Regions from separate parts of the Homo sapiens genome. Here region 1 is linked to region 2. A link means that fine-mapping ties the variant in region 2 to the expression of a gene that starts in the linked region. Tissue or cell type: whole blood. Region 2 holds a variant in brackets; the other region holds the start of a gene. All regions are shown on one strand. Distances are from middle to middle.

The links. PIP is the estimated chance that this variant, and not a neighbour inherited with it, causes the effect.
Region 1: it holds the start of TEX101, and the variant in region 2 is fine-mapped to the expression of TEX101 in whole blood (TOPMed, PIP 0.97).

The regions. Positions count from the first base shown.
Region 1 is chr19:43,412,047-43,417,191 of GRCh38, reverse strand. TEX101 (testis expressed 101) reads right to left here and starts at 2,302. Exons shown (of 6, transcript NM_001130011.3): 1 at 2,154-2,302; 2 at 1,209-1,311; 3 at 950-1,093; 4 at 637-819. The coding sequence starts at 1,272. RefSeq lists a silencer at 3,915-4,101.
Region 2 is chr19:43,448,013-43,453,157 of GRCh38, reverse strand. No RefSeq gene overlaps it. Among named protein-coding and RNA genes, the nearest start is that of LYPD3, 15 kb to the left of the region's middle. The variant C/T (reference allele first, on the strand shown) is at 1,930.

The DNA.
Region 1 (5,145 bases), 36 kb after region 2:
AGCTGAAAAGACAGGAAGGGCCAAGTTACTACAGGCCTTGTAAATTGGGGAACTGGGCCGTTCTCGTGCAGCAGTGGGAAACCAATACTTGTTAGACTGATAATACCACCCTGTTCGGAAACCTACACTGATGTCTTATTGCTTTTTTTTTTTTTTTTTTTGATGGAGTCTTGCTCTCTGTCCCAGGCTGAAGTGCAGTGGTGTGATATTGGCTCACTGCAACCTCTGCCTCCTGGGTTCAAGCAATTCTCCTGCCTCAGCTTCCCGAGTATCTGGGATTACAGGTGTGCGCCACCAGGCTAAGCTAATTTTTGTATTTTTAGTAGAGACAGGTTTTCACCATGTTGGCCAAGCTGGTCCCAAACCCCTGACCTCAGGCGATCCACCTCACCCAGCCTGTCTTATTGCTTAATAAACACAAAACCCAGTTTACACTCCAGGCTTCACTGGTATCTCGCTGCTCTGAGCAGTGTTTAGATCCCAATGAACAATTCAGAAACATAAAATTACTTGAACTGTGAGGTACTTTGGGGTATGGACCACTTAGGCTAAGCCAAGTCAGAATGCAAAGGGAGGCCATACACAAGCTCTTTATGGAGTTTCTCTTAGTACCTATCTCCCCCACTTCCAGGGTACCTGTGGTCTCACTGAACTCCCAAAACTGAGACAGGCTGTCTTTGTCATTACAGAAGGAATCCTCACAGTAGTTACTGTAGGAGGTCACGATCAGGCCGGGAGGTGAAGAGTGCTGGACAATTGTTATGGCCTCCTCCCCTTCCGGGATGCAGCCCTTCGTGGCCAAAATGGCTGTCTCAGTCCCTGTTATGAGACAGGAAGGAGGGGAAATGGATGGTGGCCGTCACAATTGGCCTGGACGAAGGGAACAAGCATTGGCATGGAGATAATCAACCTCCCTCCTACCCAGCCCAAATGCCCCATCTCATTTCACCTGCTTTAATTATTAGTATGGTTTCCTGGCAAAGTGCCCCTTTGTCACAAGTCTCCACTTCCTCTGTGGTCCAGTTAAACATATTGGCTGGATCTGCTTCCACAGTCATGGACAGACCCTTTTGACAATACAGCTCTAGGCCCGCTGAGGAGAAAACAAGAAAAGGATAAGCACTTCTCCATGGGCCAAGGCGGCTCCCTTTTCATCATCAGTCCACCTTCTGTGACACACGGCTCTCCCCTATGTCCCCCATACGCACAGGTCAGGAGGGAGGCTCCTAGGACCAGGAGGATCAGCAAATGCTGGATACGAGGGGTTCCCATGGCTTCTTCTGGAGAGGTCTGGGAGGAGCTGGTCTGGATCTGTGAATTTGATGGAGAGAAGGCAATTAACTTTTCAGCCAGAGTGCATGAGATCAAATCTAGGTCCTGGCAAGTACTGACTTCAGGGTGGGGTGTTTTAATCTGCATTTTTTTTTTTTTTGAGACGGAGTCTTGCACTGTCGCCCAGGCTGGAGTGCAGTGGCGCAATCTCGGCTCACTGCCTCTGCCTATCAGGTTCAAGCAATTCTCCTGCCTCAGCCTCCCGAGTAGCCGGGATTACAGGTGCCCGCCACCACACCCAGTGAATTTTTTGTATTTTTAGTAGAGATGACGTTTCACCATGTTGGTCAGGCTGGTCTCGAACTCCTGATCTCAGGTGATCTGCCCGCCTCGTCCCCCCATAGTGCTGGGATTCCAGGAGTGAGCCCTGATGCCCGGCCTCACAGTGGGGTTTATGGTGTATATGACCACGACTTCTAAAGTCGTTCTGTCCCTAACCGGCTTGTGAGCTGGAGCGAGTTCACAGGTTTATCACGCCCCAGTTTTTCATGGTTTTAATTCTCAGGCCCGGCCACCCAGTGCCCTCCAACTTCAGGATCAGGAGTGTGGCCCTGAAGGCCGCTTCTCCCTCAGTCTCAGGGGTCCCTTACATTCTCTCAGGGACCCAGAATCTCGGCCCCCAGCCCCAGCCCCAGCCTCATCAGAACCCGGGATTCTGAGAGCCCAGCCCCGTCCTATGTAGGGATCGAGGAGTCTGGGTTCCAACCACCTTTTCCTGCGGGACACACCATTCTGGTCCCCTCCCTCTCAGGCCCGGGAGCCCAGGCCCCCAACCCTCGTTCCCCTCAGAGCCAGGATCTGGGTCCCCAGCCTTCTCTTTCCTCAGAATCCAGGAATCTGAGTCCCTAGCCTTCTTTTTCTCTTTAAAGAAGCAAAATTGCTGCCGGCTTCCAGGCAGACGCCTCACAAGAATCTCACGACGCCAAAGTTGAGGCCCGGAACGCCTTCTCCCCGGGCTTGGCATTCTCTTACGACGCAAGGCCGGGCCAGCCTGGCCACACAGCACTCGAAACCCCATTGGTGGATGCAAAAGCATCGGATAAGTTCATTGGATGAGCCTGGAGGAACGCGGCACCTCATTGGCCACAGAGAAGTCAATTCCTGGCAATCTCGGAGGGTGCGCATGCTCGGAAGGTGAGTGGCGGGCAAACCGGCCGGAAGATCCTGCCTGTTTTTGCAGCCAGAGGCACGCAATGGAGGGTGGGCAGTGCGTTGCCAGATGGCCTCGCCTGGCCCATTTCTCTTTTTGCACTCTGTTGTCTCTGCTTCTCCAGCCACACTAGGAGGTCAGACCCTTGGCCCTCACTCACGGAACTTATCTCCCTACCCAAATGGCCTCTCATGTTCCCAGCCTGGCCCCTGCCTCGGCACCCACCTTAGTGGCCCTAGCCTCTGGGAGTCAGCTTGGCCTCTTGAGTCTTCACTTGCAGTGGCCCCTGTGCAGCCCAGGCGTCTTCATCTGATTGCGCTATCGCACCAGCCTCCTCATGGTCTCCTGGAGGGTTGAATCTAGGAATGCCCCCCTCAGCATCACTTTGGGCACCCCGAATGCATGCATGAGCAGTAGCTATGATGGCACAGGCTGCTGTCAGATCGAACCCACGCGTCCGTGTCAGGACCATGAAGAAGACATGTCACTCGGATTTGTTGCTCATGGCTGGCAGTTCACTTTCACATCTATGTAACCTTCCCTTCCCTCCCCTCCCCTCCCTTCCCCTCCCCTTCCCTTCCCTTTTTGACAGACTTTTGCTCTTTTTGCCCAGGCTGGAGTGCAATGGCACAATCTTGGCTCCCTGCAACCTCCTCCTCCTGGGTTCAAGTGATTCTCCTACCACAGCCTCCCAGGTAGCTGGGATTACAGGCATAAGCTACCATGCCTGGCTAATTTTTTGTATTTTTTTTTTGGAGACAGAGCCTCTCTCTATCCCCCAGGCTGGAGTGCAGTGACGTGATCTCAGCTCACTGCAACCTCCCTCTCCCAGGTTCAAGCGATTCTCATGCCTCAGTCTCCCCTGAGCAGCTAGGATTACAGGCACCTGCCACCACACCTGGCTAATTTTTGTATTTTTAGTAGAGACGGGGTTTCGCCGTGTTGACCAGGCTGGTCTTGAACTCCTAACCTCAGGTGATCTGCCCACCTCGGCCTCCCAGAGTACTGGGATTACAGACGTGAGCCACCACCCCTGGCCTATGTAAGCTTTCCAGGTGTGACATGAAGTTGTAGCAGGATGAGCTGCAGACAAAACTCCTCAGATACTGGATTAAAGAAGGAAGAGGTTTATTTGGCCGGGAGCCTCAGCAGACTTGCGTCTTAAGAGCCGAGCTCCCTGAAAAATAAATTCTTGGCCTTTTTTTTTTTTTTTGGAGTCTCCCTCTGTTGCCCAGGCTGGAGTGCAGTGGTGCAATCTCGGCTCACTGCAAGCTCTGCCTCCCGACTTCATGCCATTCTCCTGCCTCCGCCTCCCGAGTAGCTGGGACTACAGTCACCCACCACCACACCCGGCTAATTTTTTTGTATTTTTAGTAGAGATGGGGTTTCACTGTGTTAGCCAGGATGGTCTCGATCTCCTGACCTCGTGATCCGCCCGCCCCCCAAAGTGCTGGGATTACAGGCATGAGCCACCACGCCTGGCCAATTCTTGGCCTTTTTAAAGGCTTACAACTTCGAGGGGTCCACATGAAAGGGTCGTGATAAATCGAGCAAGCGTGGGAAACGTGACTGGGGGCTACATGCATCAGGTAACAGAACAGAAAGTTTTGCAATGCTTTTTCATATAATGTCTGGAACTTACAGATAACACAAGTAGTTTAGGTCAGGGGTTGCTGTTATTATTATTACTTTTTTTAACTCCTAGGGCTGGGTGGTGGTGCCAAGGTTGACTGGCTATTTATCTTACTTCTGTTTCTTTCCAACTTTTTGCTTTCTCTCTTTCCTCCTGTCTTGTGAACTAGGCAAGGTCGGGGGAGGAGGGCAGCAGGAGTAGTAGTGGTCTCCTTCCTTAAAGTAAGGCAACGCTTTGTATACTTTCAGAATTGGTACTGATTCTGTAAGTTATAGTATAAATGAGTATTTATTTTTAATAGAGAAAATGCCACAATAAGAAAGGGATTGGTAAAGCTTCAATCCCTTTGTTATCTTTGAACTGTTATCTTTGAATGATCACATGTCAAAGGATCCAGGAAGAATGTGTGCCAGTTTTCAGCCCCCGTCTGTCCCCCGAGGGCTCGTGCTTGGGAAAGCAGTCACCTTGTTGAGTCACTCTCCAGGTGACTTGGTCGCAGAATCCCTCCATCTCACACCTAGAAGAGACCTTGGAAGCCTAAGCACCCTCCACCTCTATTCTTCACCCCATTTCTGCTTCAACAGCTCCAGGGACCTCCTCTTGCTCCGTGACATAGTTTGGATATTTGTCCCCCGCCCAAATCTCATGTTGAAATGTAATTCCCAGTGTTGGAGATGCGACCTGGTGGAAGGTGTTTGGGTTATGGGGGCAGATCCTTCATGACTTGGTGCTGTCCTTGCAATGATGAGTGAGTCCTTGCCAGATCTGGTTGTTTAAGTGTGTGGCACCTCCCCTTCTTACTCTCTCTCGCTCCCCTTCTCTGGCCTGCATCCTTTTGCCATAAGTAAAAGCTCTCTGAGGCCTCCCCAGAAGGAGATGCTGGCACCACGCTTCCTGTACAGCTGCAGAACCTTGAGCCAATCAAACCTCTTTTCTTATAAATTACTTCTAGTCTCAGGTATTTCTTTATAGCAGTGCAAGAACACCCCAATACACAGCCCCTTGAGAAAGGTGGCTTTGCCTTTTTGGT
Region 2 (5,145 bases):
GTGCAGTGGTGCGATCACGGCTCATGGTAACCTTGAACTCCTGGGCTCAAGAGATCCTCCTGTCTCAGGCTTCTGAGTAGATGGGACTACAGGTGTGCACACCGTGCCCAGGTAATTTTTAAAAGTTTTTTTTGAAGAGATGGAATCTCACTATGTTGCTCAGGCTGGTCTTGAACTCCTGGCCTCAAGCACTTCTCCCTCCTTGGCCTCTGAAAGTTCTGGGATTCCAGACGTAAGCCACTGCACCCAGCCAACCTTTGTTGTTTTGAGTCACTGAATTCTGGAGCTGTTTGTCACTGCAGCATAACTTAGCCAATCCTGACCGATACATTCCCTCATCTCCTTCCCTTGTTTTGCAATTGGAATCATTTACAAACTGGTGAAGTCCTCCTACTGACTATAACCCTGTTGTGACTCCCCAGCACTCGCAGGGTAAGATTCCAATGCCCTACCATGGCTTACAAGCCCACACAGGAACTGGTGACTGCTGCATGCTTGCCTTTAACCCCTCCCTACCCTCTGCTTCCTTTCACATTCCAATGACACTGAACTTTTCAGTTCAGAAAAGTTCAGTTCAGAAAAGTTTGAGCATCAAACTCTTCTGCTCACTCCCAGACCTTTGCAGTTGCTGTTCCTTCTGCCTGGAATGCTTTTCCATTGTCCTTCCGTCTCTACCTGGTGACACCTACTCTTTCTTTAAGACTTAGCTTGGATGTCCTCTCCATCAGGTATCTTTCCTGACCACCAGTCTGGGTCACATGCCTCATTTGGGGCTTCCCCCATTATTGTTTTGATCACTTGGGATTGTTGCTATCTGGATGTATTGGTCTGGTCTCACATTGCTATAAAGATTCTACCTGAGGCTGGGTAATTGATAAAGAAAAGAGGTTTTTATTTTTTTAATTTATTATTTTTTTTGAGACACAGTCTTGCTCTGTTGCCCAGGCTGGAGTGCAGTGGCACAATCTCGGCTCATTGAAACCTCCGCCTCCCGGATTCAAGTGATTCTCCTGCCTCAGCCTCCTGAGTAGCTGGGATTACAGGCGTGTGCCACCATGCCCAGCTAATTTCTGTATTTTTTAGTAGAGACAGGGTTTCACCATGTTGGTCAGGCTGATCTTGAACTCCTGACCTCATGATCTGCCTGGCTCGGCCTCCCAAAATGCTGGGATTACAGACATGAGCCATCATGCCTGGCCTTTATTTATTATTATTTTTTTTAATATAAGGTCTTACTCTGTTGTCCAGGCTAGAGTGCAGTAGAGAGAAGTTGGCTCAGTGTAACCTCCACCTCCCGGGTTCAAGCAATTCTCCTGCCTCAGCCTCCCAAGTAGCTGAGGTTACAGGTGTCCGCCACCATACCTGGCTAATTTTTGCATTTTCAGGAGAGATGGGGTTTCACCATGTTGGCCAGGATGGTCTTGAACTCCTGACCTCAGATGATCTGCCTGCTTTGGCCTCCCAAAGTGCTGGGAGTACAGGTTTGAGCCACTGCGCCTGGACTGAAAAGAGGTTTAATTGACTCACAATTCTGCATGGCTGAGGAGGACTCAGGAAACTTACAATTATGGCAGAAGGTCAATGGGAAGTAAGGCATGTCTTACATGGCGGCAGCAGAGAAAGAGAGAGAGAGACAGAGAGAGAGAGAGAGAGAGCAAAGGAAATTGCCACTTTTTTTTTTTTTTTTTTTTTTTTTTGAGACAGAGTCTCGCTCTGTCGCCCAGGCTGGAGTGCAGTGGCGGGATCTCGGCTCACTGCAAGCTCCGCCTCCCGGATTCACGCCATTCTCCTGCCTCAGCCTCCCAAGTAGCTGGGACTACAGGCGCCCGCCACTACGCCCGGCTAATTTTTTGTATTTTTAGTAGAGACGGGGTTTCACCGTTTTAGCCGGGATGGTCTCGATCTCCTGACCTCGTGATCCGCCCGCCT[C/T]GGCCTCCCAAAGTGCTGGGATTACAGGCGTGAGCCACCGCGCCCGGCCGGAAATTGCCACTTTTAAACCAACAGATCTCGTGAAACCTCCCTCATCAGCACAAAAACAGCATGTGAGAAACCGTCCCCATGATCCAATCACCTCCCACCAGGTCATTCCCTCACACATGGGGATTACAATTTGAGATGAGATTTGGGTGGGGACATGGAGCCAAACCATAACACTGGAAGATGTGTCTGTCTCTGCCCCTGGACTTTGAGTCTCCTGAGGGAAGGGCTGGGGCTATGTTGTCAGTGCCACACACACATCTCAGGGCTGGGCACAGAGGAGGGTTTCAATTATAGTTTGTCGAATGAATAGTGCATGACTTCAGATGTTAGGCAGATCTGTTCATCACAGGATTTCTGAGAAGCAAGGGTGCTGTCTCTTTCTCTTCTCTGCACTTTTTTCCTGACAGGCTTTCTGGAGAACTGAGACTTGAGAGCTGGCACAGTTTGTTCCTGGAGGCCAGCTCTATGCTGCAGGGAAGCGGTTGTGGTTTCTGTGGAAAGTCCCAGAGCAATTCATTTCTTCTTGGTTCCTCCAACCAATCAATCCAATCCAAATTCCTTTGCTGACTCAACACTTTCCCAAATTTTTATTTTTACTTTTGCACAGATGTTTAAAATGAATTATTTAAAACATAGAGAAGTTAAAATAATCTTACAGTGAACACTCATATATACCCATCACCTAGATTCTATTTGTATGATTATTATTATTATTTTTGAGACAGAGTCTCACTTTGTCACCCAGGCTGGAGTGCAGTGGTGTGATCTGGGCTCACTGCAACCTTCACCTCCCAGGTTCAAGCGATTCTCCTGCCTCAGCCTCCTGAGTAGCTGGGATTACAGGTGCCCACCACCACGCCTGGCTAATTTTTGTATTTTTAGTAGAGATGGGGTTTCACCATGTTGGGCAGGCTGGTCTTGAACTCCTGGCCTCAAGTGATTCATCCGCCTTGGCCTCCCAAAATGCTGGGATTACAGGGGTGAGCCACCGTGCCCAGCTCTATTTTTATTTTATCTTTGGACACAGGGTCTCACTCCCATAGCCCAGCCTGGAGTGTAGTGGTGCAATCTTGGCTCACTTCAGCCTCGACTTCTGTGGCTCAGGTGATCCTCCCACCTCAGCCTCCTGAGTAGTTGGGACTAGGGGCATGTGCCACCACGCCTGGCTAATTTTTTTTTTGTAGAGATAGATAGGATTTCGCCCTGTTGCCCAGGCTGGTCTCGAACTCCTGTACTCAAGCCATCTGCCTGCCTTGGCCTCCCAAAGTGCTGGGATTACAGGCATGAGCCACCGTGCCTGGCCCCATCACCTAGATTCTAAATTAATTAACATCTTACTCAACTTGCTTTATCAAGTATTTACCCACCTTTCCATCCATCTATCCATCACTCCTTCTTGCCTTTTCAATGCATTTCAAAGTAAGTTGAAAAGCATATTTATTTAGTTTCTCCTCTTCAGGTAAAATTTACATATGCTGAAATGCACAAAACTTAAGCACATTGTTAGAGGAATTCTGACAAATGTGCAGGCCCGTGCCGCCAAAATCCTTATCTTGAATCAGAACATCACCATCACTCCAGAAGGTTGTCTCCCATCCCTTCCCAGTCAGTCCCTGGGTTTCAGAGAGGAATGTAGTGGGTGGGGTGGGAAGAGGAGGCAGAGGTTAGGCCTAAACCTTGAAGGGCCTCATAGGCCACAATAAGAAATACAATAACAATACAAATAGAACACTATGCTGGATGTTTTTCTTTTTTCTTTTCTTCCCTTTTTTTTTTGAGACAGGGTCTCACTCTGTTGCCCAGGCTGTAGTGCAGTGGTACAATCATAGCTCACTGCAGCCTCAAACTCCTAGGCTCAAGCCATCCTCCCTCCTCAGCCTTGGAAATAACTGGAATTACAGGTGCATGCCACCATGCCAGGCTAATTAAAAAAAAATTTTTTTTTTGTAGAGATGAGTCTCATTATGTTGTCCAGGCTGGTCTCGAACTCTTGGCCTCAAGTGATCTTCACACCTCAGCTTCCCAAAGTGCTGGAATTACAGGTGTGAGCTGCTGTGCCCGGACTATGCTGGATATTTTTTGTTTGCCTCTTCAGGTCCACTCTCCACCTCTCCCCGCCATACTCCTGGGAGTCTGACCATACCTTGGGATCAGCATGAACCACAATGAGCTTTCTGAACCTCTAGCTTTCTGCATCGGTTTGCCCAATGGGGAGACACTGGCAAGAAACTGGAGGGTGGGTATTTATTTCCCCAACTCCCTTCTTGATGTACGGTTGCCTTGGGCTGCCTGTATCTTTCTACCCACTGCCTCCACCCTTGTAAATAGACTCCTTTTTTTTTTTTTTTTTTTTTTTTTTTTTAGACAACAGTCTCTCTCTATCACCCAGGCTGGAGTGCTGTCAGTGGCGCCATCTCGGCTCACTGCAACCTCCGCCTCCTGGGTTCAAGTAATTCTCCTACTTCAGCCTCCTGAGTAGCTGGGATTACAGGCGGGCGTCACCACGCCTGGCTAATTATTGTATTGTTAGTAGAGATGGGGTTTCACAATGTCGGCCAAGCTAGTCTCAAACTCTTCACTCAGATGATCCGCCAGCTTTGGCCTCCCAAAATGCTGGGATTACAGGCGTGAGCCAGTGTGCTCAGCCCGATACTTACTTTTAATTACATGTAGATTAAGGCGCGGTTTATGCAGAAATTTCTAGGGAAGGGGTAATGACTTTTGGCTTGTGGGGTTATTGGCATGGAAAGGGGCAGTAACTCCCAGGTGTTGCCATGGCAACGGTAAACTGACGTGGCATACTGGTGGGCGTGTATTATGGGAAACTGCTTAGCTAGTCCTCAATTTGGTCCCATACCCAAGTCCCACCTCTGGAGGTGAGTCCAGCCTCCCACCTCAAAAACAGTGGCATTGGCCAGGCGCGGTGGCTCACGCCTGTAATCCCAGCACTTTGGGAGGCCAAGGCAGGCAGATCTCTTGAAGTCAGGAGTTTGAGACCAGCCTGGCCAACATGGTGAAAACCCATCTCTACTAAAAATACAAAAAAAATTAGTCAGGCCTGGTGGCGGGCCTGACTAATCCCAGCTACTCAAGAGGCTGAGGCAGGAGAATCGCTTGAACCCAGGAGGCGGAGGTTGCAGTGAGCCGAGACCATGCCGCTGCACT